Linked DNA regions of Homo sapiens. The protein of the gene in region 5 interacts with the protein of the main gene of each other region in a biochemical or structural test. Each region holds a gene or a part of one and is shown on either strand. Other genes may lie near its edges.

Evidence for each region.
Region 1: of the proteins of MAPK14 (region 5) and NLRP1, one has a biochemical effect on the other in vitro, tested with the Homo sapiens proteins (one study listed by BioGRID).
Region 2: of the proteins of MAPK14 (region 5) and DUSP7, one has a biochemical effect on the other in vitro, tested with the Homo sapiens proteins (one study listed by IntAct).
Region 3: of the proteins of MAPK14 (region 5) and HDAC3, one has a biochemical effect on the other in vitro, tested with the Homo sapiens proteins (one study listed by BioGRID).
Region 4: of the proteins of MAPK14 (region 5) and NRL, one has a biochemical effect on the other in vitro, tested with the Homo sapiens proteins (one study listed by BioGRID).
Region 6: the proteins of MAPK14 (region 5) and DUSP4 form a complex in vitro, tested with the Homo sapiens proteins (one study listed by BioGRID).
Region 7: of the proteins of MAPK14 (region 5) and TFCP2, one has a biochemical effect on the other in vitro, tested with the Homo sapiens proteins (one study listed by BioGRID).

The regions. Positions count from the first base shown.
Region 1 is NC_000017.11:5,553,510-5,557,009, forward strand, and holds part of NLRP1 (NACHT, LRR and PYD domains-containing protein 1), read right to left. Parts: intron 1,090-3,500; exon of another isoform or gene 997-1,089; intron 635-996; exon of another isoform or gene 492-634; intron 48-491; coding exon 1-47.
Region 2 is NC_000003.12:52,050,996-52,053,571, forward strand, and holds part of DUSP7 (dual specificity protein phosphatase 7), read right to left. Parts: intron 128-2,576; coding exon 1-127. UniProt on the Homo sapiens protein: Dual specificity protein phosphatase. Shows high activity towards MAPK1/ERK2. Also has lower activity towards MAPK14 and MAPK8. In arrested oocytes, plays a role in meiotic resumption.
Region 3 is NC_000005.10:141,626,850-141,630,349, forward strand, and holds part of HDAC3 (histone deacetylase 3), read right to left. Parts: intron 3,277-3,500; coding exon 3,195-3,276; intron 3,068-3,194; coding exon 3,011-3,067; intron 2,891-3,010; coding exon 2,835-2,890; intron 2,458-2,834; coding exon 2,324-2,457; intron 1,791-2,323; coding exon 1,710-1,790; intron 1,364-1,709; exon of another isoform or gene 1,339-1,363; coding exon 1,265-1,338; intron 1,109-1,264; coding exon 1,044-1,108; intron 1-1,043. UniProt on the Homo sapiens protein: Histone deacetylase that catalyzes the deacetylation of lysine residues on the N-terminal part of the core histones (H2A, H2B, H3 and H4), and some other non-histone substrates.
Region 4 is NC_000014.9:24,108,450-24,111,949, reverse strand, and holds part of NRL (neural retina-specific leucine zipper protein), read left to right. Parts: intron 1-3,500. UniProt on the Homo sapiens protein: Acts as a transcriptional activator which regulates the expression of several rod-specific genes, including RHO and PDE6B. Also functions as a transcriptional coactivator, stimulating transcription mediated by the transcription factor CRX and NR2E3.
Region 5 is NC_000006.12:36,104,308-36,107,807, reverse strand, and holds part of MAPK14 (mitogen-activated protein kinase 14), read right to left. Parts: intron 354-3,500; coding exon 180-353; intron 1-179. UniProt on the Homo sapiens protein: Serine/threonine kinase which acts as an essential component of the MAP kinase signal transduction pathway.
Region 6 is NC_000008.11:29,333,685-29,337,184, forward strand, and holds part of DUSP4 (dual specificity protein phosphatase 4), read right to left. Parts: coding exon 3,342-3,500; 3' UTR 1-3,341. UniProt on the Homo sapiens protein: Regulates mitogenic signal transduction by dephosphorylating both Thr and Tyr residues on MAP kinases ERK1 and ERK2.
Region 7 is NC_000012.12:51,163,136-51,166,635, forward strand, and holds part of TFCP2 (alpha-globin transcription factor CP2), read right to left. Parts: intron 1-3,500.

The DNA.
Region 1 (3,500 bases), on a different chromosome or scaffold from region 5:
AGAAGAGAATCTGCCAATAGGCATCTGTGACTGGGACCCACCTGAACCTGAGGGGGAGAGAGAAGGACAGGAGAGATGTGATGTGTCTGGCAGGGGTTTGAGGTGCCCAGCCCTGCACAACACAGTTGGGCTTTGTCCCCCTGAGCACCAGGCCACAGCGGGTAGTGCCATCTCCAGTACTGACCAGCCCTCCCTGCCTGTCTGCCCGTCACCCAGGGCTAGGTCCCTCTCCTCCATGTGGCTCCTCATTCTACAGCCCTTACCATAGCACACTGAAGTGTTCACCTTGTGTGTCTGTTTCTGCCTCAGTCTGGGAGTTCCTTGAGGGCAGGGACAGACATTTGTCTTTTTTTTTTTTTTTTTAAATCTGCACTGCTCAGCATAGGGCCTGGCCTCGGTGCTGAGCACTGCAGATAAGAAAAAAATTTTTTAAAAAAATTTGACAATTTTAATTTAAAAAAAATTTGACAGCCTTCCTCCCTTTGATGCAGACACACCTGTGTTCCTTTGGCACAGACATTCTGGAGTCCCAGTGCCCAGGAAAGAAGACGGGAGGCAGTAGCAGAGCCTGGGAGAGATGGCCTGAGGATGTTGTGATGGAAGACTGTATATGATCATATGCACTGCTGTCCAGGTTGGCTCACATGGGACCCTATCCCCTTCCCAGGATAACAAGAGGGTCTGCAGGAGAGGGATGGCTGTGGGGAGTGCCCTAGGAGAGAATATTTGCAGCCTGAGGGGAAGAGATGACGGGCTTTGTCTGAGGGTGTTAGAGTAGACTCCGACTCATGGAATTTCCACCCATTTAATCTGTTTTCACACACTACTTTAGTGACCTCATCTACCTCCAAGGCTTCAACTACTCAAATCTCTATTCCAAGTTTCAGACTGAGTTTTCTATTTTCTGGTTGGATATCCCCACCTTGACATCCCAGTAATTCTTTGATCTAATTTGTCCCAACAAGTCCCCAACCTGAATTCATCTTTTCCCCTAAGTCTGCAGAGCCATGTGGGGGCAAGAAGCAGAGGCAAGGAGCTGCCTGCATGTGGGCTCTGCTTCTCTATCCCTCACTCCGTCTCCTCCGCTGCAAAAAGAGGACAGCAATAGCACCTGCTGCAGAGGGGTATGTGAGAATTAAAAGCTACTAAAGAGTATCCCAAAAGTCCTAGAGCAGTTTTAAGTTTTAATAACTGTGAAAGTACAAGTACTACAAACATATAAAAAAAGCCAGCTGAGTGCAGTGGCTCTAGCCTGTAATCCCAGTACTTGAGGAGGTAGAGGCAGGAGGATCGATTGAGCCCAGGAGTTTAAGACCAGCCTGGGCAACATAGTAAGATCCTGTTTCTACAAAAAATAAAAAAAATTAGGCAATGTGGTGGTGTGCACCTGTAGTCCCAGCTACTCAGGAGGCTGAGGCAGGAGAATGGCTTGAACCTGGGAGGCCAAGGTTGCAGTGAGGTATGGTCATGCCACTGCACTATTCCTGGGAGACACAGTGAGATCCCATCACACACACACACACACACACACACACACACACACACACGAAAAAAAGCCATAAATGAAAGCTTACTTGAATTTCTTTTACACTTACTTAGTTTTGTGAAACTTGAAAAATACATTTTAAATTTTTTATTTCCGTTGGCATTTGCCATCCTTAATCAAGGTGACTGAAAAAAAATTAAAAATTTATACTTGAAAATGCACAATGCTTAATCACATGCCAAACACCTGGAAGCTCCCATCCTGTCATCTTCATTTCTTTAATATCTCTGGTTGGTTCTCCTCTTCCTTCACACAGCCCTTGGCCAACCTCCACCCTTTCTTCCTGAACTTTCTTGTTTTTTTTATAGTAGCTTCCTTATTCTTCTCTCTGCCTTGTCTAGCTGATTCAGTTCCTTGAAAATTTCTCCTCCCACTTGTGGCTGAAGCCTCTGACTTTCCCACGGCATTCTCTTAAGGCTCCACTTGCTCCCGCCCATCCCAAACTCTCCTCTCTGGCCTGGTGTTCTTGGTTCCCTTTGCCTATCCCAGCCCCCATCCCCCGGCCAGCCACCATCTGGTCTCTGCCTCTAGCTGCTTGGAACTCTTTGAAGATTTCCCACCTGTCCACTGCTACTTGCAGTACCTGTATCCAGGTCCTTTAAAGCCTACCTCACATTTATAACTATGAACAACTAGAAGCAGCTTAAAATGGCCAAGAACAGGAGAATGGTCAAATCAGCCATGGCACTTTCCCTATGGAATAGCATGTGGTCATTCAAAATGGTGTTGTATCAGACTACTTAAAAATATATAAAGGGCTGGCATGGTGGCTCATGCCTGTGATCCCAGCACTTTGGGAGGCTGAGGCAGAAGGATCATTTGAGGTCAGGAGTTCAAGACCAACCTGGCCAACATGGTGAAACCCCGTTTCTACTAAGACGACAAAAAATTAGCTGGGTGTGGTGGTGCGTGCCTGTAATCCCAGCTACTCTGGAGGCTGAGGCATGAGAATTGCTTGAACCTGGGAGGCAGAGGTTGCAGTGAGCAGAGATCGTGCCACCGCATGCCAGCCTGGTGACAGAGCAAGACTCTGTCTGTCTCTGTCTCTGTCTCTCTCTCTACACACACACACACACACACACACACACACACACACACACACACACATGAAGGGCTGGGCATGGTGGCTCACATCTGTGATCCCAGCACTTTGGGAGGTCAAGGTGAGCAGCTTGCTTGAGCCCAGGAGTTTGAGACCAGCTTGGTCAACACAGTGAAATCTCATCTCTATACAAAAAATATACAAAAATTATCGCTGCATGTTGGCATGCTCCTGTAGTCTCAGCTCCTAGCGGGGCTGAGGTAAGAGGATCCCTTAAACTCGGGTGGTCCAGGCTGCAGTGAGCTGTGATTGCACCACTGCACTCCAGCCTAGGGGACAGAGCGAGACTCCGTCTCAGACAACAACAAACCAAAAAAAAAAAAAAATACCCCACACCCACTCACAAGAAGATAGCCTTGATATATAAAGAAAATAAAACTGACTATAAAATAAAATGTACAATATGGTTCGATTTCGCCATAGACATGTGCACAGAAAAAAGACTGGGGTTCTTACAATTGACCACTAATTTTTTTTTTTTTTGAGACTGAGTTTTGCTCTTTTTCCCAGGCTGGAGTGAAGTGGCACAATCTCAGCTCACTGCAACCTCTGCCCCTGACCTGTCAAGTGATTCTCCTGCCTCAGCCTCCTGAGTAGCTGGGATTACAGGCGCCTGACACCATTTTCGGCTAATTTATGTATTTTTAGTAGAGATGGGGTTTCACCATGTTGACCAGGCTGGTCTCGAACTCCTGACCTCAGGTGATCCACCTGCCTCGGCCTCCCAAAGTGCTGGGATTACAGGTGTGAGCCACCACACCCAGCCAATTTTTAATGATGGTTATTACAGAATGATGGAATTCTTATTGATACTATTTTTCATCTTTTTGCTTATCTACGTTATCTTTTGTT
Region 2 (2,576 bases), on a different chromosome or scaffold from region 5:
AAGTCGTAGGCGTCGTTGAGTGACAGGTTCATCTTCTGCATCAGATAGGCCACAGTGACCGTCACTGAGCGGCTGATGCCTGCCAGGCAGTGCACCAGGACACCACACTTCTTGGAGCGGGCTTCGTCTGAAACACATTGGCATGGGTCAGGGAGGTGCCTCCTTCAAGGAGCCTTCCCACATGGGTGGGCAGGTGGGGCTGGGGCACAGAGGGCAGCATGGTGGCTGGCTGGTCTTGCCCGACCCCTGAGGGACCTGGCCAAGCCCAGTGTGGGTAGGGCAGCAACTTGGAATAGAGGTCAACAGCACTGCTGTGGAGAGGGCTCTGCACACTTTAGCCCCAAGGCACTGGACACCCGTGTCTGTTTCCTCATCTATAAAATGGGCCTATTTATGCACAGTGGTCTCATAAGGACCTGAGCCAAGTGAGGGGTCAACAAACATGAACTACTGTAATGCCTGTGATCATGGCTAGTCCTACCACTGCCATGTGCGTTAACGACTGCTGTCACGGGTGTCACCTGCATCCTCTTGGGTCATCTGCACCATGGCCAGTAAGCCCATTTTATCAACGAGGAAACAGACACAGAGACAAAGTGGCAAGCCCAAGGCCACACAGAAGCTCCTCCTAGCTCAGCGCCCGCTGCTGCCAGGCCATGACCTGGGACTGGGGGCTGGGCTGGTTCTCTTGGAGCCGCTCCCATGGGTTGTCCCTGAGAGTCTTCTAGGAAAGTGGCCTGAGGGAGGCTCCTCTGGAAGGAAGTAGGTGGCCTGGCCCTGCATTTCGCTCTGCCATCTGCCCAGCTAGTCCCCAAGGCCTTAACTCCAGCTCCTAAGACACATGGACTGGGATGATGGCCACACTATCACTTGTGATGGGGCTTCATAAGTGAGGTGTGCTTAAATGGGCCCCACCCCTGCCACTTGCTAGACCTTCCTCAGGAGGCCCATGTGTCAGTGATATCTCCTACCACAGCTGACTGGATGGGGCCAACCTTCCTGTCCCCTTTCCCCTCCAACCCTCCCAGCTTCCCCCAGTGCCACCCTCAGACTCCTCTGTCTGACACATAGAAGCTCAATAAATACTGGCCGAGCTACTGAACAACTCAGTCCTGTAATCTCTCCTGGACCCCGGGGCAGCTGCCTCTCTGTGTGCCACAGCTGTGCCAGGGACATAGATTCACAAGAGGCAGCCATGGGGTCCTTGATGTCCCCACCACCCTGACTCTGAACCCTCCAGGAGCCAGGCACACAGCTAGCACGCAATCAATGCCTTCCTACAAGATGACATACGGGTTCACCCACTGTTCTTCGTTGCCTTTGTCCTGACAGAGCTTCCTCTCCCATCCCCTCCCAACCAAGGAGTAAAGCATACAGTAGGTGCTTCCTCCAGACTCAGGGACTGACAGGGGGCCCCATGGCTAAGGCACTGGGGCAGGATCATCTGGCAAGGAGACAGACATTGCAGCTTCATGAGGAGCTGTGTGGTCAGACCTCGAGATTGGGGGTGGGAAAAGGGGGTGCTGGGACCAGCCTCCAGTGGTGACACCAGGATGTGAGGAACGCCTGGCCTCCAAACCCACCTCCAGGTGATCCAAAGACAGTCTGTTTCTGCTGGCTTTATTTTTGGCCTTTTCAGGGTGTAGCTGGTGACTGATCCTGTCCCACTGACTCCTAAGGGATGCCTGGGCCTCAATTCCTTCACTTGTCAAATGAGGAAAAAGGTCCCCCTACCCAGACGGGGAGGAGCTTTCAGGAAGGATAAAGGTACCCACTAGCCAGGCCCAGCCTGGCGAAGCCTGCTTCCCTCTCTCTATTCCCCTCCCTCGTTGGGGGAGTTCAAATGCTGAGGCAGCACCCCTAGCCCTCTTGACCCAGGGGGTGGTGGGCAGGGCTGAGAAGCTCCAGGCAGCCCCAGTTGCAGCCCCTCCCCCAGGCCTCAGCTTCCTTCCTTCCTCCCAGCCAGGCACCTACTTTTGGTTCCCAGTAAGCGGATGAGGCGGGGAAGCCTCCCACTTCCTGTTGTTAAAGCTAGCCCAGCCCAGCCGACACCAAAACGCCCTCCACTGGACACAGCCACCATCGGGAAAAGACAGCCCGGGCCACCCCCACACCTTGCCACTGGAGGCTGGGCAGAAACATTGGGTCACCAGGCTCAGAGATAGAGCGTTTACATTCATCCTGAGCCCTCGTGCCCCTTCCTTGCACCCTGGGCCAGGGGAGATGACCTGTGGTCTCAGCCTCCAGCTGGCCAAGGAGAAAGCAGTGGGGACCCGAGTCTGCTGAGGCTGGGGATACAGGGACTCGAAGGGCACTAAGCCAGACAGCAGGACACACTGCTCTGGGGAAGGCCTTTCTCCACTCCCCCACCTTCTCTTGCACTCCTCCCTACACTCCAAGCAAGCCCTACAGGCTGCAGAGAGCATCTGGAGGCTGACTGAGCTAGCAGTCACCACATTTCAATAGCTGCCTGTTTGGGGTGTGCCTCTGGCTCCAGGGCTACCTTTCAGCCCTCTTAGGTCCACATTAAAGCCCAAAGAGGCACTATGACAACCCCATCCTGGAGAGACACGTGT
Region 3 (3,500 bases), on a different chromosome or scaffold from region 5:
ACCCCCTCCACCTTAGTCTGGGCACCTAACCAACACCATGGCTTCCTAACTGGTCTTTCTACTTCCATCTCCATCCCCCCTACCCAAACCTTTCTCTATTCAGCAGTCAGAATTGTCACTTTCAAACACAAATTGGATCATGTCACTTTCCTGCTTAAAATCCTTCAATGGTTTCCCATCATCTTTGGAATATAATTCAAACTCCTTACCAGGGTTTAAAGGCTCTGCACAATCTCACCATGGCCAGCTTCTCGGACCTCACCTCAACAGACTGAAGTCCAGTGGCACAATCATAGTTCACTGTAACCTCAAACTCCTAGGCTCAAGTGATCCTCCTGCCTCAGCTTCCTGAGTAGCTAGGACTATAGGCATGCACCATCATGCCCAGCTGATTTTGTTTTTTATTTTCTGTAGAGATGGCTCTCACTATGTTGCCCAGGCTGGCCTCAAACTCCTAGCCTCAGGCGATTCTCCCACCTTGGCCTCTGGAAGTGTTGGGATTATAGGTGTGTGCCACTGGGCCCAGCCCTCAGAGCCTTTTGTGGGCCTTTGTCCATGCTTGGGTCAGGCTTCTCTCTGCTCCTCTTATGACTCACTCCTTCTTAGTCTCCAGGTCTCAACTCAAATTTTACTTCCTCAGAAAAACTTTCCGAAACCATGCTATCTCAAGTAGGTCCCCCATTGTATCCTGTGTCTCAGCTTTCTTTTTTTCTTTCACAGAATTTATAAGAATCTATTTATTTCATTTGATTATTTATTTTTTGTCTGTTTCCTAAACTGTAAACTCCATGGGAGACTCCTTATTCCATCCCCATGATGTGGTATGATGCCTGGAACATAACAGGTGCTTAATAAAAATATATCGTGAATGAATGACCATCTAGGGAACCCTGTTCAAGATGACATTTCTAGTTCAAGTACAATTTGTAGCTATTTTTGATTTCCAAGAAGAGGTGAGGCCCATTCCCCAACTACCCCCACCCACGTACTGAAGTCCAAGGCCACTTAAAAACCTTGGGGAGAAGAAGGAGAGCAAGTCTCACCCATGCCCTCGGATGCTGAGGTTAAAGCAGCCCAATCGATCACAGCCCAGAGAGTCAGCTCCACACTGCAAAAAGCAAAACCCCAGGAAAGTGCAGTGATCAGAACTGATCAGAACATCACAGATACCCCTTCCACCACCAACCTAAAGAACCTCCTCTTCCCTTGCTCTCTTTCCCCAAGCCCAGGCAGAACACTCCTGAGGAGGAACTGACAGTATTACCTGGAGCACAATGCACGTGGGTTGGTAGAAGTCCACTACCTGGTTGATAACCGGCTGGAAAAGGTGCTTGTAACCTGGGAGAGGGCCAAAGATGGGCACCTGGCACCCCAAGGGGATGGGGAGACAGGGAACAAAAGGAAAAAGGGGGTTGAGCGAGCATGTAGCCCAGGAAAGGGGCCACCCAAAAGAATCAAATCACTGGTCTGAAACTTCTGGAAGGGATCCCAGACTGCTATGAGTGACTGATGAAAGCCAATGACTTTTCCCAGAAAAATGCACATACACATGATATGTTGCATACAATTTCCAGAGATTCATGGTCCCTCTGAAGGCCATTCATCCTTAAGGACAACTGGCCCAACAGCAGACAATACCAGGCAGAAGAGGTTATTTCAAGGAGAAAAAGAAGGGGCCTAGGGAACAGAGGGAAGACTTCGGTACTTACTCTGGTCATCAATGCCATCCCGCAGGGGCACGTTCAGACAGTAGTAGCGGCCACTCTCTGCCCCGACTTCATACATGTCACCTGTAGGGAAGTGGGTGGTGGTAGCCACACATGGGAAGCACCCACAACCCAGCTGTTTCAGCCCCAATCTGCACTCTGGGAGCCTCTCATTCCATCTATGTAGCTTCACCATAAACTCCCTAGAGCCACTAAATCTCTTGCAGCTTGCATTCATTGGGCAAATAGTTTTGGGGGATCCACTCTGAGCCAACTGTGTACTAGGCAGTAGGGATGCAGCAACGAATGGAACTAATGAAATTTACGATATCCCACCACGCTTATATTCTTAGGGAATAGCCATGAGGAGGAGGGAGGCAGTAAACAAAACAAAACAAAAAACCACAATAAACACAAATAGCAGTGAGTGTTCTGAGGGAAACAATGAGGCTGATGTAACAGAGGAATGGGGAAGGAGGTGATTATGATAACTGGAGTGGTAAGGAAAGGCTTCTCTGAGGAGGGGACACCTGAGATGAGACTAGAAGGCTGAGAAGGAGGCACTCATAGTAAAGAGCTGAAGGGTGCAAAGGGGAAAGTAATCCCTATTCCCATACCTGTGCCAGGGAAGAAGTAATTTCCGTATTTGTGGAAGGACACCGTCATGACCCGGTCAGTGAGGTAGAAAGCTTCTTGAACCCCGTCACCATGGTGGATGTCAATGTCAATGTAGAGCACCCGAGGGTGGTACCTAGAGGGAAGCCAAAGCCAGGGTCTGAGCTAGAAGTGAACCCCCCAACCCACTCCTCTCAAACACCGGGTCTCGAATTGTGAAGAGTCTGCTTCTGCCCTGGTCACCTGAAACTTAATGTCACCAGTTCCCTAAAGGCAACTGGGGGCTCCAGCCTAGAGGCTAGAGGCAGGGACAGGAGAGGGATATGCAGAGAAGGCTGAAATGTGAGCAGGCAGTAGGGAATCTGCAGCAGTGGAAGAGGCAGCCTGAATAAAGCATCAAGAACTTGGGAGAAGCTAATCAGGGAGGAGGGAGGTCAAGGTCAGGGTTGAGACTGAGAGACCTCCTCAGCCAAGAATCCCGTAACTGCCCCCATCTCCTCCTGGGCTACTTACTTGAGCAGCTCCAGGATGCCAATCACAATGTCGTTGACATAGCAGAAGCCAGAGGCCTATGGCAAGACAGTGGTCTCATAAAGAGAAGAGCAATTCCCCTCCCAGCTGCCCCCCACCATCATCCTAAACACCTACCCTAGGATGGCCACTGTCTTTCCCATCACCTCCTCACTCACCTCAAACTTCTTGGCATGGTGCAGACCACCAGCCCAGTTAATGGCAATATCACAGATCTGAAAGACAAACACCTAAGTCACAGTCCTTCCTGCCCACCCCTCAAGCTGGGAGCCCAGGATCAGGGTTAAATCCCGAGTCCAGGGATCCAGAGGAAAGGAAGAACAGGACTCGGGACTATGTCACCTTGTTGTTCAGCTGGGTTGCTCCTTGCAGAGATGCGCCTGTGTAACGCGAGCAGAACTCAAAGAGCCCGGGAAACACTGGGCTGCAGGGAAGAGGAACAAGTTGGAACCCTCCTGCCTCTGTCTGGGCCCTTCCCATATCTCCCTCCCCATCCTAGATTCCTCCAATCTCCATTTTTCAAGAACCTTCTCTCCCTCTCCTACACACGTGGGCTATCTGCAAATTTATTCAACAAATATTTTGGACCAAACCATGTACCAAGCCCTGTGCAAGGCACTGGATGGGAAGTAAAGAAGCACTTAACTG
Region 4 (3,500 bases), on a different chromosome or scaffold from region 5:
ATGGGCAAAAACTGGAAGCATTCCCTTTGAAAACTGGCACAAGACAGGGATGCCCTCTCTCACCGCTCCTATTCAACATAGTGTTGGAAGTTCTGGCCAGGGCAATCAGGCAGGAGAAGGAAATAAAGGGTATTCAATTAGGAAAAGAGGAAGTCAAATTGTCCCTGTTTGCAGACGACATGATTGTTTATCTAGAAAACCCCATCGTCTCAGCCCAAAATCTCCTTAAGCTGATAAGCAACTTCAGCAAAGTCTCAGGACGGAATCATTTTTTAAAAAAATTGGCCGGGCGCGGTGGCTCACGCCTGTAATCCCAGCACTTTGGGAGGCCAAGGCGGGTGGATCACCTGAGGTCAGGAGTTCGAGACCAGCCTGGCCAACATGGTGAAACCCCGTCACTAAAAAAAAAAAAGCCGAGTGTGGTGGCATGCGCTTGTAATCCCAGCCACTCGAGAGGCTGAGGCAAGAGAATCGCTTGAACCCGGGAGGTGGAGGTTGCATTGAGCCGAGATCACGCCACTGCACTCCAGCCTGGGCTACAAAAGCGAAACTCCGTCACACACACACAAAAAACAATCAACCAACCAAACAAAAAACACCTATGCCTCTTCCGGTAGTTGATCTGCTGAAGAATCCTCCTCTAACAGCATTTAGTGCTTAACGCACAAGTGAGCTGGGCACGGTGGCTTACGACTGTAATTCCAGCACTGTGGGAGGCCGAGGAGGAGGATCATTTGTGGCCAGGAGTTCAAGGCCAGCCTGGGCAACATAGTGAGACCCAGTCTACAAAAAGAAAAAAAAAATAGCCGGCCATCGTGGCGCGTGCCTATGGTCCCAACTTACTTGGGAAGGATGAAGGAGGGAATCTTGAGCCTATGAGGTGGAGGCTGCAGTGAGCCATGATTGCTCCACTGTACTCCAGCCTGGGGATAGAGCTAAAGACTGTCTCTAAAAGAAAATCAACAAATGGCTCACTATTGTTCATTGTTTCAAATACAAACTTCCAAACCTGGATGTCTATTTTTAGTAACCTCATTTTTTGATATTTCTGCTAAGCAAATATGCCAATAAATAGCTTGTTTATTTTTACCTCTGCACCTTCCCAGGAGAATTTCTTATTAGAGGGAAGCTGTCTACAAAACTCCCTTCCTCACAGCCTTGCACTTTGACCCAGTAATACTGCTTCCAGAAATCTAGGCCGGACATGCATAAAAATTTATGTTCTACATAGCAATTATTGATAAAAGTGGAACACTGGAAACAAAGATCTAAATATCTTGCAATATGGGATTGTTAAATAAATTATGGTCCATGTAGTATAGACACAGAAATACCAGGTAGCTATTAAAATGGTGTTGTAGTCTTCAATTTTTTTTTAAGGTACCTATTCCTGGTATAGGTTTGTTGTAGCCTTCTATTTTTATACCATAGGAAATTGTGCAAACTACATTGTCAAGTTAAAAAAATAAAGATAATCATTTCTTCTGGTGACATGTAATAGATGCAAAAACGATGTGGTTTCATTTTTTCATTAGAAAGTATAATAGGCGTGGTAGCTCACACCTGTAATCCCAGTACTTTGAGAGGCTGAGGCGGGCAGCTCGCTTGACCACAGGAATTTGAGATCAGCCTGGGCAATGTGACGAAACCCCATCTCTACGAAAAATACAAAAACAAAATTGAGCTGGGCCTGTAGTCTTGGCTACCCAGGATGCTGAGGTGGAAGGATCACCTGAGTCTGGTCAAGGCTGCAGTGAGCCATGATTGCGCCACTGCACTTCATCCAGCCTGGGCGAGAATGAGACCCCGTCTCAAAGAAAAAAAAAAAAAGTATAATAATACCCAGCTCATTACATCATTAAACAAAGTGGGGAGGGCTTGCATGAACTGGTGACAAAGGTGTAGCTTCTACAAAGGATTATGATGAATACAGCTATAGCACCTGAGGTCCAGAAAAACGAACAAAAAACTTCTGTTAAACTTATCTCCTTAACAATTCATTTTTTGATTCTCTTTTCTCTTCTTCTTACAAATTAGTTTAAACCTGAATAAAATCTTTTAATTCAAGCTTTTGTAATATGGAACTTGTACATTATTGAGTAAAACATTTAAAAGTCATGGTAAATGTTAAAATAACTGAGGTTTTATGACAAAATTGAGTCCTTCACATCACATGGGAAAGAATATAAGATTAATCACTGGATTCATTGATTAATTTTTTTGCGTATAAAAGATTTTTTTTTTTTTTTTTTGAGATGGAGTCTTGCTCTGTCACCCAGGCTGGAGTGCAGTGGACCGATCTCGGCTCACTGCAAGCTCCGCCTCCCGGGTTCATGCTATTCTCCTGCCTCAGCCTCCCGAGTACCTGGGACTACAGGCGCCCGCCACCATGCCCGGCTAATTTTTTGTATTTTTCTTAGTAGAGACGGGGTTTCACCATGTTAGCCAGGATGGTCTCGATCTCCTGACCTCATGATCTGACCACCTAGGCCTCCCAAAGTGCTGGGATTACAGGTGTGAGCCACCACGCCTGGCAGCATATAAAAGATTTTTAAGCCTATGAACTTGATTATCTCACTATGACCTGTAATGTTTTTCAAAATGTGTAAGAGCATTTATATCTTAGGGTATACAGTGTGTCTATTGAAATAAATAAAATGGCATATCTTTAAAAATAATTATGGTGAAGTCATTTTGATAGACTAAATTTTGCCTATGCTGTCTTGATTTTGAAATTTGGTACGTTGCGTGGTTACAGTTTGTGAAGCACTTTTCATTTGGGTAACCTCTACTCTCTCCAGTTGCACTTAAAGTCACTTAAAGCCACAGAGAGGTTTTTCTACCTTCAGCACCCATTTTAGGACAATTTCTGGTAATTGCTAAGTAAATGTCAGCTAGTTGACTTCCTGCCTGACCTGTCTTGGCCTGTTTCCTGCTCATTAGCATCTCCACTAGAGGGCAGGCTGGGCTGCTGAGGAGAGAAGGAAAGGAGTGTTTTCATTCTCTAGCTAACCCTGTCCTCCTCTCCTCTACTGCAGCTCCCAGCTTGGTGACCACACAGAGCTCCTGGGACAGTTCCGTGTTTGGAGTGACTGATGCTCATACATGTGTTTGAACATTGCCTTATAGTATTCTCTGTGTCGATGGAAATGGAGAGTGTGCTAATAATTTACCTAGGGACTTAAAATGTGTTGACTAGAAAGCCACTAAGTAACTATGGGATGTTCTAATACTCTCATGTCTTGTGTCTGTAAGAATCAGATTTTTCTGTGTGTAGGGTAGGAGCTATAGATGTAATATAAGTAAATACCCTTTAGTGGCCCGGGGTAGTGGCTCACACCTGTAATCCCAGCACTTTGAGAGGCTGAGGCAGGTGGATTGCTTGAAACCAGGAGTTCAAGACCAGCCTGGGCAACATAGTGAGACCCCATCTCTAAAAAAAAAAAAAAAATTAGCCAGGTGTGGTGGCTTACACCTGTAGCTACTCGGGAGGCTGAGGC
Region 5 (3,500 bases):
TATCTCAAAGGTCCAGAGAGTATCACTGTCTACAACAGTTTCCACCAGAGAACATATTCATTCTGCATTAGAGACCTCATCTACAAGCTTTAGCAAGTTGGTTATGACCATTCAGTTTTTATTTTTCCCACCGCTTTTGGTTAGTGGTTCAAGATGTTAATCCTACCCTTAGGACTTACTTTTCCACTCATCTATAAGGAGGTCCCTGCTTTCAAAGGACTGATCATAAGGATCGGCCACTGGTTCATCATCAGGATCGTGGTACTGAGCAAAGTAGGCATGTGCAAGGGCTTGGGCCGCTGTAATTCTCTTATCTGAGTCCAATACAAGCATCTTCTCCAGCAAGTCGACAGCTATCAGTACCATAGACAGGAAGGAAAAGAGTTTTTAACATGTTACAAAAAAGTATGCCTTATTGAGCAAACATAGTTTTGACCCTTCATATCCAAACAAAGAACTCTCCTCCAAAATACCTACTCTAGGATATATTAGCCCTCTTCTCCTTTATGTGTGTATGTGTGTGTGTGTGTGTGTGTGTATCTGTATTTTCTATGTTTTAAAATTTTTTTATTTTATTTTTGATTTGGGGGTACATGTGCACATTTGTTACATGGGTCTCACCACGGACTGATGGGGACTGGGCTTCTAGCGTGCCCATTAACCAAATAGTGAACATTGTACCCGATAGGTTATCTCTCAACCCTCACCCTCCTCCTGTATTTTGTATTTTTAAAGAATATGTTACTAAAGAAGAATTTTTTTAAATGACTGGGATTCTGTTTGAACAGGCTTTTGTGGACCGTCAATGTCAAACTGCTACCAGTGTAGTCAAACTGTATAAAACAAAGCCTACAGCTGAAGTAACCTACAATAGGTAGGCAGGGCTGTTTTTTTTTTGTCCCCCTAAGCTGTTTATTTACTAACATCAAATATTCATCAACAGATCTTCAAACAGTGAATAAACTGGGGGTTTTACATGGTGATGAGGGTGAGACATGGTATTAAAATCAAAGGGAATTTTATTTTTAAAAATTTCACTATGAAAAATTTCAAATATACAGAAACAGAAAAGTAAAAACTATGATAAAGTGAACACTCATATGCCTAGCATATTCAACAATTAACATTTTTATATTTCTGTATTTATATGTATTTTTTTCTGAACTGTTTTAAAATAAAATTATAGACATGACACTTTACCCTCCCCAAATATTTCAACACGAAGACATCTTCCTATATAATCATAATACTGTTATTATCTCTGACAAATAATTTCTAAATATCATCTAAAATCCAGTTCATGTTAAGATTTCTCCAATTATTCCAACGTTGTCTTTTAGAACTAGTTTGTTGAAACCAGGATTCAATTAGGGGCCATGCACTGCAACTGACTGGTTTTCTTTAGTCTCTCTTAGTCTAGAATAATCTTCTTACTTCTAAGCCCTGTTCTTTCCTGATTTTGATCTAAAGAGACCCTCTGATTGTCCTGAGAATGACCGTTTCTCGGGATGTGTCTGATTTTGCTTCTTTTGCTGTCATGTGTCTATACCCTGCTTTCCACTATCCCCTGTACTTCCCAAAAACCGGAAGTTAGGTCAAAAATTTTGGTAAGAATCAGGTTAAACATTTTCAGCAAAAATACAGGTGATGCTGTGCACGTGACAGTGCATTAAGGCCATCTGTCCCACTACTAATGAGCTAAAATTGATCACTGGGTTAAGATGTTTCCCCTTTGACCAAAGCAAGTAATCTGCGGGATATTTTGGTACCAAGTAAATATCCATTCTTTTCACTTATGGCTTTCTGCATTCACTGGGTTTCCTTCCCAAAAGCAATTATTTCATAAGGGGTTACAAAATGGTAATTTGTCTAACTCTATATTTCAAATGAGTATTTTTGTGTTTCAGCATGGTGGCACTTGGGAGAATAAATACTGCCATATAACCAGTTATCACTGTGGTGAAAAAGGCTTTTGAGACTTTGCAAATTACTCCTTAAATGTGGAGGGTGTGGGGGTGAGTAGTGAAGAGGACAGCTTCCTATAGAGATCTACTGCTGTGTATATTGGAGGCTGTAAAACACCCGTCCTACAGCTTGAATTCCAGAGTAATCCACTGGAGAAATATGGGCTTCAAGGGGATACAGAAACAAAGTAAATATTCATGTGTCAATTCAAGTTCATAAGTTTACACTTTACAGTACTAGGTGAATGCCTGGATTATATATATATATATTCTTCTGATGGTCTTCTCTTCTTAGAAAAAGAAACCTTATCAGCTGTTGATTTTATAATTGAACACAGATTATACGACAAGTCTCTGTTACCCTTAGGGTAAAAAGGACCATGTTCTTATAACCAATAAGGTCAGGGGCAAGAACAAATTCCTCAAAGATCTTATTAGCTGGGCATGGCATTATGTGCCTGTTGTCTCAGCTACTTGGGATAGGGAAGAGGAAGGATCACTTAAACACAAGAGTTCGAGGTTATCATGAACCGTGACTGTGCCACTGTACTCTAACCTGGGTGACAGAGTGAGATGCCATCTCTTAAAAAAAAAAAATCTTGACAGATAAATACATACACTAACATCAAGGGGTAATTTAAGTTTTAATTCATGTTTTGGGAATAGCAGTGAAACAAAGTCAGTGGCTGACAAAACAGAGCTGTTAATATTTATATTTCTGGCATGTTCCTGCTCAGTTAATATGCTGGGCACGAGCTTGTGATAGTAACACTGTGCTCCATCTGCCCAGCAAGGGGAGCCTCATTATATGACATCACTGTTTGGCAATGGGCTGTAAGGCACGTTTAAATGCTGAGAAGTACAGTGCTGAGCACCAGATGGACCAAAGCCTCCTTTCAACTCATTAGCAAAGTGGTATCTAGTTCTTTTGGAGGTTTCAATGTCATGATTTCAAAGAATGGGAAGACCTATCAGGAGGTATGTGACCTAAATAAGCTGCTGGAACACAAATATCTCCCCTCTCCCCCTAAAAAATGAATTAACACATCTTTCTGAGTCTGTTAAGAGGGTGTCAGTGAGTACTGCCCTGTTCAAAACTTAAGGCTTATAAAATGAAACAACTTCAGAACAGAATGACGACAAGAAAGAACACGACGGGCTGGGTGCAGTGGCTCATGCCTGTAATCCCAGCACTTTGGGAGGCCGAGGCGGGCAGGTCACGAGGTCAGGAGATCGAGACCATCCTGGCTAACACGGTGAAACCCCGTCTTTACTAAAGATACAAAAAATTAGCCAGGTGTGGTGGCACACACTTGTATTCCCAGCTACTCAGGAGGCTGAGGCAGAAGAATCACTTAAAGCCGGGAGGTGGAGCTTGCAATGAGCCGAGATCGCACCACTGCACTCCAACCTGGACGACAGAGCGAGACTCTGTCTCAAAAAAAAAAGGAAAGAAAGAACACAACATCTTTTCCCAACATCCTGTAGTACTTAAGGCTCAAAGAGAGCTTCTCACAGACCCTTGAACTAGATAAT
Region 6 (3,500 bases), on a different chromosome or scaffold from region 5:
CCCGGGGAGCTACGAAACACACTGATGCCTGAGTCCCCCACCTAGAATTGGTTGAACTGGTCTAGGAGAGCCTGGGTATCAGAACTGTATAAGTTCCCCAAGTAATTCCAATGCGGGACCATGGCTTTACTACTACAGGCTTGGTTGATGGCCAATTCCCAATCTCCAGCCTCTTCCTGTCATGTTGGAGTCAACTATCCTATGTCCCTCTCTCCATCTTCCCAAGATTTAAAAACCTTTCTCATGGCTTCCCAAATTGGAAAACTCTCTGGAATCCAGCGTGGATGAGCAACTGAACAAAATGGCTTTGGGAGGGAATGATGGGAGCTGGGGCCTACCAGTCACCTGCTCTTCAGCCTAATACTGCTCTGTGGGAAAACTTGGTCCATTTCCCCCAGGGCTCCTCAACACACACCCCTGGGTCAGACGTTCTGGGAGGGAATAGGCAGCATTCCTCACTCTACAGAACACCCAATGAGCATCCTGTCTTTCATGGCTAATACCAAAGTTGACAATCAATGAGGGTCAATGCTTTCCTGTCATTACAGAAACTTCCCATCACCAGAATCCCTTCATGGGAGGGATGGATGCCTGTTGAAACTCACTGACCTATTGGACTGACGCTGGGGTGGTATCTTCATCAGAGCTATTGTAAGTCATCCAAAAGGCTTCTGACGAAAGAACAATTTTTAAAAAGTCCCTCTTTTCAATCAAGCCAATGTCCTATTTTATTTCTAAAAGTTTTGGGACTCGTGCTGTTATCAAGTACAATGAAAATGGCTTTATAAATAGCTGTTTTGACATTGTGATAGAAGGCTTGAATTCGGAGGAAAGATGTCGCTGGAGCTAGTCCTGAGTTCCGACTGTCCCTGTGGTGGGAATCCAGTCTGGGAAAGCAGGACTGTTTTAGCAAACGTGTACTCGTTCTATAAAAATGGAATCTGTTCTGCAGGTTACCGTCCCTCCCCGCCCAAGCATCCCCTCTGTCCTGTCTCTCTGCTGCTGGGACCCAGGGCTTTTTCAGCTGCAGAACCCACTGGACTTCCAGGAATCAAGGAAAAAGTGGAAATGTCCAACTGTGTTGTCTCTAAATGGTTCCATTGTCTGGGAACTGAAACCCTCCATGCTTCACCCTGAACTGTTATTTCTAGAGGAAGCAGGGAGCCTCTGGCTCTTCTAAAAATTGCCAGTGGGAGCTCTGGCCTCACCCACAGGCGGAGCTTGGTGAAGTCAGGATGAATGATGCCGTCACAGGTTCATGGTTCATGGAAGGAAAGGTAACCAACCTTGTCCTGTCTAGGATGCCAGATGAGAAAGAGTATCCCAACGTGACGGTGACATTGAGGCTTGACGTTATTTATGGGTGAGCAAGAATGTTCATTAGATGTAGACTCTCAAAGGGCTAAAAAAAACCATGCTCTCACTTCTAGACAAGTTTGCAACAACCTCTAAGCTGGCACTCCATAACAAGACTGTTCCACAATACTACAAACAAAATAGCATGTAGCTTGTTCCCTCCTCCCTCCCCCCCAAACCCTCCCCACAGAAAACGTGTCTCCCTCCAAAGCCATTCTCCATTTAGAAAGGCCCAACTAAGGATTCAAAATGGCACCCACGTGCCGACGATAGATTCAAAATGGCGCCTGCGTGCCCATGACGCACGTCACGGGAGCCAGCGGCCAGCCCCCTCACCAGCAGTCAGCCCCAACCCCACCCTGGCGCTTTGATTTCCAGTTTGGGAAATTCATACCAATGGAATCCGATGTAAGCAATCCACCATCAGCTCACTGATGCTCTCTTGCCCTTCCACACTTCGAGAAGACCTGAAATGTGGTGTCCATTCCCCTCTTTATTCAAAAGAGGACCTTCAAAAATATTCACCTAACTAGGAATTTAAAGAACACAAGAAATTGTTGGTATATTTCACTTCAGGTAACTGCCCTAAAATTAAAACCTCCAATTTATGCAAAAAAAGAAAAGATGGTGCTTCAATTTACAAAAGGATTCATTTCAGGGTTATCTCTAGTTGTCTGGTTTCCCCAATGGCTGGCCTTGCCAAATGATTTGCTGTAGGAAAATTTGAACTGCACCCAATTTTCCAGGAGCACCTTAGTGTAATATGGCATATTGATCACAGACGATAGACAAGTCTTAGGCAGGTTTATGCAAAAAATGCTGCAACCACCCAGTGATCATCGGAGGGAAAAAAGCTTGACTTACTGTGGTCTAAAATTGCTTCGGTGGCCTACATGCCCATGAACCAGCTTCAAAAGCAATTCACATTGGTCATGATGACACACACCTGCAGTCCCAGCTACTCAGGAGGCCGAGGTGGGAGGATCTCTTGAGCCCAAGAGCTTGAGATGAGCCTTGGCAACATAGTGAGATGCTGTCTTTTTTTTTCTTTTCTTTTTTTTTAAAAAAGCAATTCAAACCTAATTCTTCCCTTTCTTCCTCCTCCCACCCAACCCGCCTGCTTCTCAAGATGAGCCTTGGCAACATAGTGAGATGCTGTCTTTTTCTTTTCTTTTTTTTTTAAAAAGCAATTCAAACCTAATTCTTCCCTTTCTTCCTCCTCCCACCCAACCCGCCTGCTTCTCAGTGGCAACAAACTCAAGTTGCTCATCATGCTACCTTGCACATATCTACAAGACACCATTTACTTCCTAACTGCCTTGACATCTGCATGCTACGGTGCTCAGCTGTTTGACATCAACATAAATATATTCTAAATCCACTGTAACTAGACTTTTTGTACTTTCATACTCTGAAGAAAGTCTTAATAAATACTTTATTATTAAGCATAATTATTCATCTGTTGGTGACTGAGAAATGAAAACCACACCTTCGAAGATTTCTTTTAAAAAATGAAATTCCTTTAACTACAACAACGACAACAAAGGGACAAGTACACAGAACCAGGCACTTCTGGGAAACTTGTCTTCTCATCCCTTTGCCCTCCCTTCCTCCCCCTTTAGTAAAGCTGGTTGGGCACATTTGCTAGGATCTGTGGGTTTCATCACTTCAAGCCTTACTGCTTAAAAAAATGAGGTAAGAAATTTCTATCGGAAAAGTGAAACTGACACATAAACCAAACCAAGGTCTTCCCTGGCTGCTGCGGCAGCCGTTATTGCTCTAAGTTGGAGTGTTCTGTTTGCTTTTATTATGTATTCGGAGTCCTTATTGCCATTCTGGCTGGCCTCGTCGTTGGCCAAGGAGAAATGATGGGGAAGGAGCTCGGTCGCCTGCTCCCAGCTGCTCAGTCCCAACTTTCTGCCCGCATGCGGCCCGTCCTACCCTTGCTGGGAGCCAGCTCTGGTTCTGGGGCCCCCAGGGCGGCTCTAACAGCTGGGAGAGGTGGTGATGGGGCTGTGCAGGTAGGGCAGGCTGCTGGGGGCCGAGTGCACGCCCACGGAGACCGGAAAGCTGAAGACGAACTGCGAGGTGGGGGTGGCGGGGGTCTTGCCCCGCTCCCGCAGGGGTCCCGAGGGGCTAGCAGC
Region 7 (3,500 bases), on a different chromosome or scaffold from region 5:
CAAAAAATACAAAAATTAGCTAGGCATGGTGGCACGAGCCTATGGTCCCAGCTACTTGGGAGACTGAGGTGGGAGGATTGCCTGAATCTGGAAAGTGAAAGCTGTGATGGTGCCACTGCACCCCAGCCTGGGCAACAGAGCAAGACCCTGTCTTAAAAAATAATAGTAATAAGGCCGGGCGCGGTGGCTCACGCCTATAATCCCAGCACTTTGGGAGGCCAAGGCGGACAGATCACCTGAAGTTGGGAGTTCAAGACCAGCCTGACCAATGTGGCAAAACCCTGTCTCTACTAAAAATACAAAAATTAGCTGGGTGTGGTGGTGTATGTCTGTAATCCCAGCTACTTGGGAGGCTGAGGCAGGAGAATCGCTTGAACTTGGGAGGCAGAGGTTGCAGTGAGCCAAGATCACGCCACTGTACTCCAGCCCAGGCAACAGAGCGAGACTCTGTCTCAAAAAATAAATAAATAAATAATAATAACAATAATAAAATATTAGAAAGAAGGCAGGGTATGGTGGCTCATGCCTTTAATCCCAACACTTTGGGAAGCTGAGGTGGGAGAATCGCTTGAGCCCATGAGCTCAAGACAAGCCTGGGCACCATAGTGAAACCCCCATCTCTACAAAAAATAAAAATAAAAACAGAGATAAAAAAAAGAAAGACCTTAAGTCAATACTCTAACTTCAGACCTTAAGGAACTAGAAAAAGAAGCACAAACTGGACCCAACCAAAGGGAGGGAATAACAATGTTTAGAGCAGAGATAAGTGAAATAAAGAATAAAAATAAGGCAGGTGCAGTACCTCACACCTGTAATCCCAGCGCTTTGGGAGGCTGAGGCAGGAGGATCGCTTGAGGCCAGGAGTTCAAGGCCTGGGCAAGACAGTGAGACCCCATCTCTATGAAATTAAAAAAAAAATTAGCTGGGTTTGGTGATGCATGCCTGTAGTCTCAGTTACTCAGGAGGCTGAGGTAGGAGGATCACTTGAGCCCAGCAGTTTGAGGTTGCAGTGCATATGATCACACCACTGCATCATTCCAGCCTGGGTAACAGAGCACGGCCCCATTTCTCAAAAACAAACAAACAACAACAACCACAAAAACCAAGAAGAATAAAAATAGTAGAATCAACGAAACCAAAAATTTGTTATTTAAAAAGATCAACAGAATTTACAAACTCTTGGCCGGGTATGGTGGCTCACGCCTGTAATCCCAGCACTTTGGGAGGCCGAGGCGGGCAGATCACAAGGTCAGGAGTTCAAGACCAGCCTGGTCAACATGGTAAAACCCTGTCTCTACTAAAAATACAAAAATTAGCTGGGCACGGTGGCAGGCACCTGTAATCCCAGCTACTGGAGAGGCTGAGGCAGGAGAATTGCTTGAACCTGGGAGGTGGAGGTTGCAGTGAGCTGAGATCATGCCACTGCACTCCAGCCTGGGTGACACAGCAAGACTCCATCTCGAAAAAAAAAAAAAAAAAGTAATTAACAAACTCTTGTCAGACTGACTGGGAGAAAAAGAAAGAAGATGAAATGAAAATAAATAAAATCAGAAATGAAGCTGGGGATATTACTACTAATTTTATATAAATGAAAGGATTATAAGAGAATACTGTGAATGACTAAACCAGCATATTAGATAATTTAGATAAAAGAGACAAATTTTTAGAAACATTAAAGTACCAAAACTGACTCAGAAAAAATTAAAAGTCTCAACAAACCTATAATAAGAGATTGAATTGATAAACAAAAACCTCCCAACAAAGAAAAGTCCAGTATCACATGGCTGCATTGGCAAATTCTACCAAATATTCAAAGAATTAACACCAATCCTACTCGAACTCCTTCAAAAAACAGAAAAGAATGGAACACTTCCTAACGTTCTATGAGGCCAACATCACCCTGACACCAAAGCCAGAAAAAGATACGATAAAATTCAGGCTGGGCATGGTGGCTCACACCTGTAATCCTAGCACTTTGGGAGGCTGAGGCAGGAAGATCCCTTGAGTCCAGGAGTTCAAGACCAGCCTGGGCAACATAGGGAGACTTGGTCTCTTAAAAAAAAGACATGATAAGAAAACTATAAACCAATATCCCATATGAATATAGAAATAAAAATCCTCAAGAAAATAACAGCAAACTGCAAACTGGATCCAACAGTACATTAAAAAGATTATATACCATGACCAACATTTATCCCAGGAATGCAAGAGTGGTTCAACATAAGGAAATCAATCAATGTGATACACCACATTATCATCTCAACAGACACAGAAAAGATATTTGAAAAAATTCAATACCCTTTTAAGATTAAAAAAAAAAACACTCAGCAAAAGTTCAAAGACATTATGCTAAGTGAATAAGTCAGTCACAAAAGGACAAATATATGATCCCACGTATATGAGGTTTTTAGAGTAGTCAAATTCATAGACACAGAAAGTAGAATGGTGGTTGCCAGAGGCTGGAGTGGGGGGAGATGGGAAGTTAGTGTTTAATAGGTACAGCATTTCACTTTGGGATGAAAAAGTTCTGAAGACAGATCATGGTGACAGTTGTACAACAACGTAAATGTACTTAATTACACTGATCTGGACATTTTTAAAGGGTTAAAATGATAGAATTTTATGTTATGTGTATTTTACCACAATAAACACACACATACACACATATTCAGCAAACTAGGAATAGAAGGAAACTTATTTAACACTAAAACGGCATTTATGAAAAACTCTGAGTAGGGCATGGTGGCACATGCCTGTAGTCCCAGCTACTCAGGAGGCTGAGGCAGGACTGCTTGATCCCCGGGAGTTCGAAGCTGCAGTGAGCCATGAACATGCCACTGCACTCCAGCCTGGGCAACAGAGTGAGACCCCATCTCAAACAAACAAACAAAGAAGTTGGCCAGGCATGGTGGCTCACATCTGTAATCCCAGCACTTTGGGAGGCCAAGGCAGGTGGATCACCTGAGGTCAGGAGTTTGAGACCAGCCTGGCTAACATGGTGAAACCCCGTCTCTACTAAAAATACAAAAATTAGCTGGGTGTGGTGGTATGTGCCTGTAATCCCAGCTACTTGGGAGGCTGAGGCAGGAGAATCGCTTGAAGCTGGGAGGCAGTTGCAGTGAGCTGAGACCATGCCATTGCACTCCAGCCTGGGCAACAAGATCGAAAACTCCATCTCAAAAAATAATAATAATAATAAATAATAAATAAATAAAAGTTAACATCTGTGAACAGCCTGGGCAACATAGCATGACCCTGCCTCAAAAGAAAAAAAAAGGAAAGAAAAAAAAGATGACATCTCTGACTGTGGGTCACTATATTAACAGATGCTTAAAGTTGTTTTTCAGGAATTAGGGGACAGCTCTTACCCAGTTGAGACCACCAATCCCTCAACTGGACCTGCATGAGTGCCCAAAAAGTGACCTTTTCATGTCAGAGGGACAAAAACTCCACACTTAGATCATGTTAACACTGCCATTTTCTGCACATGGCCTATGAAG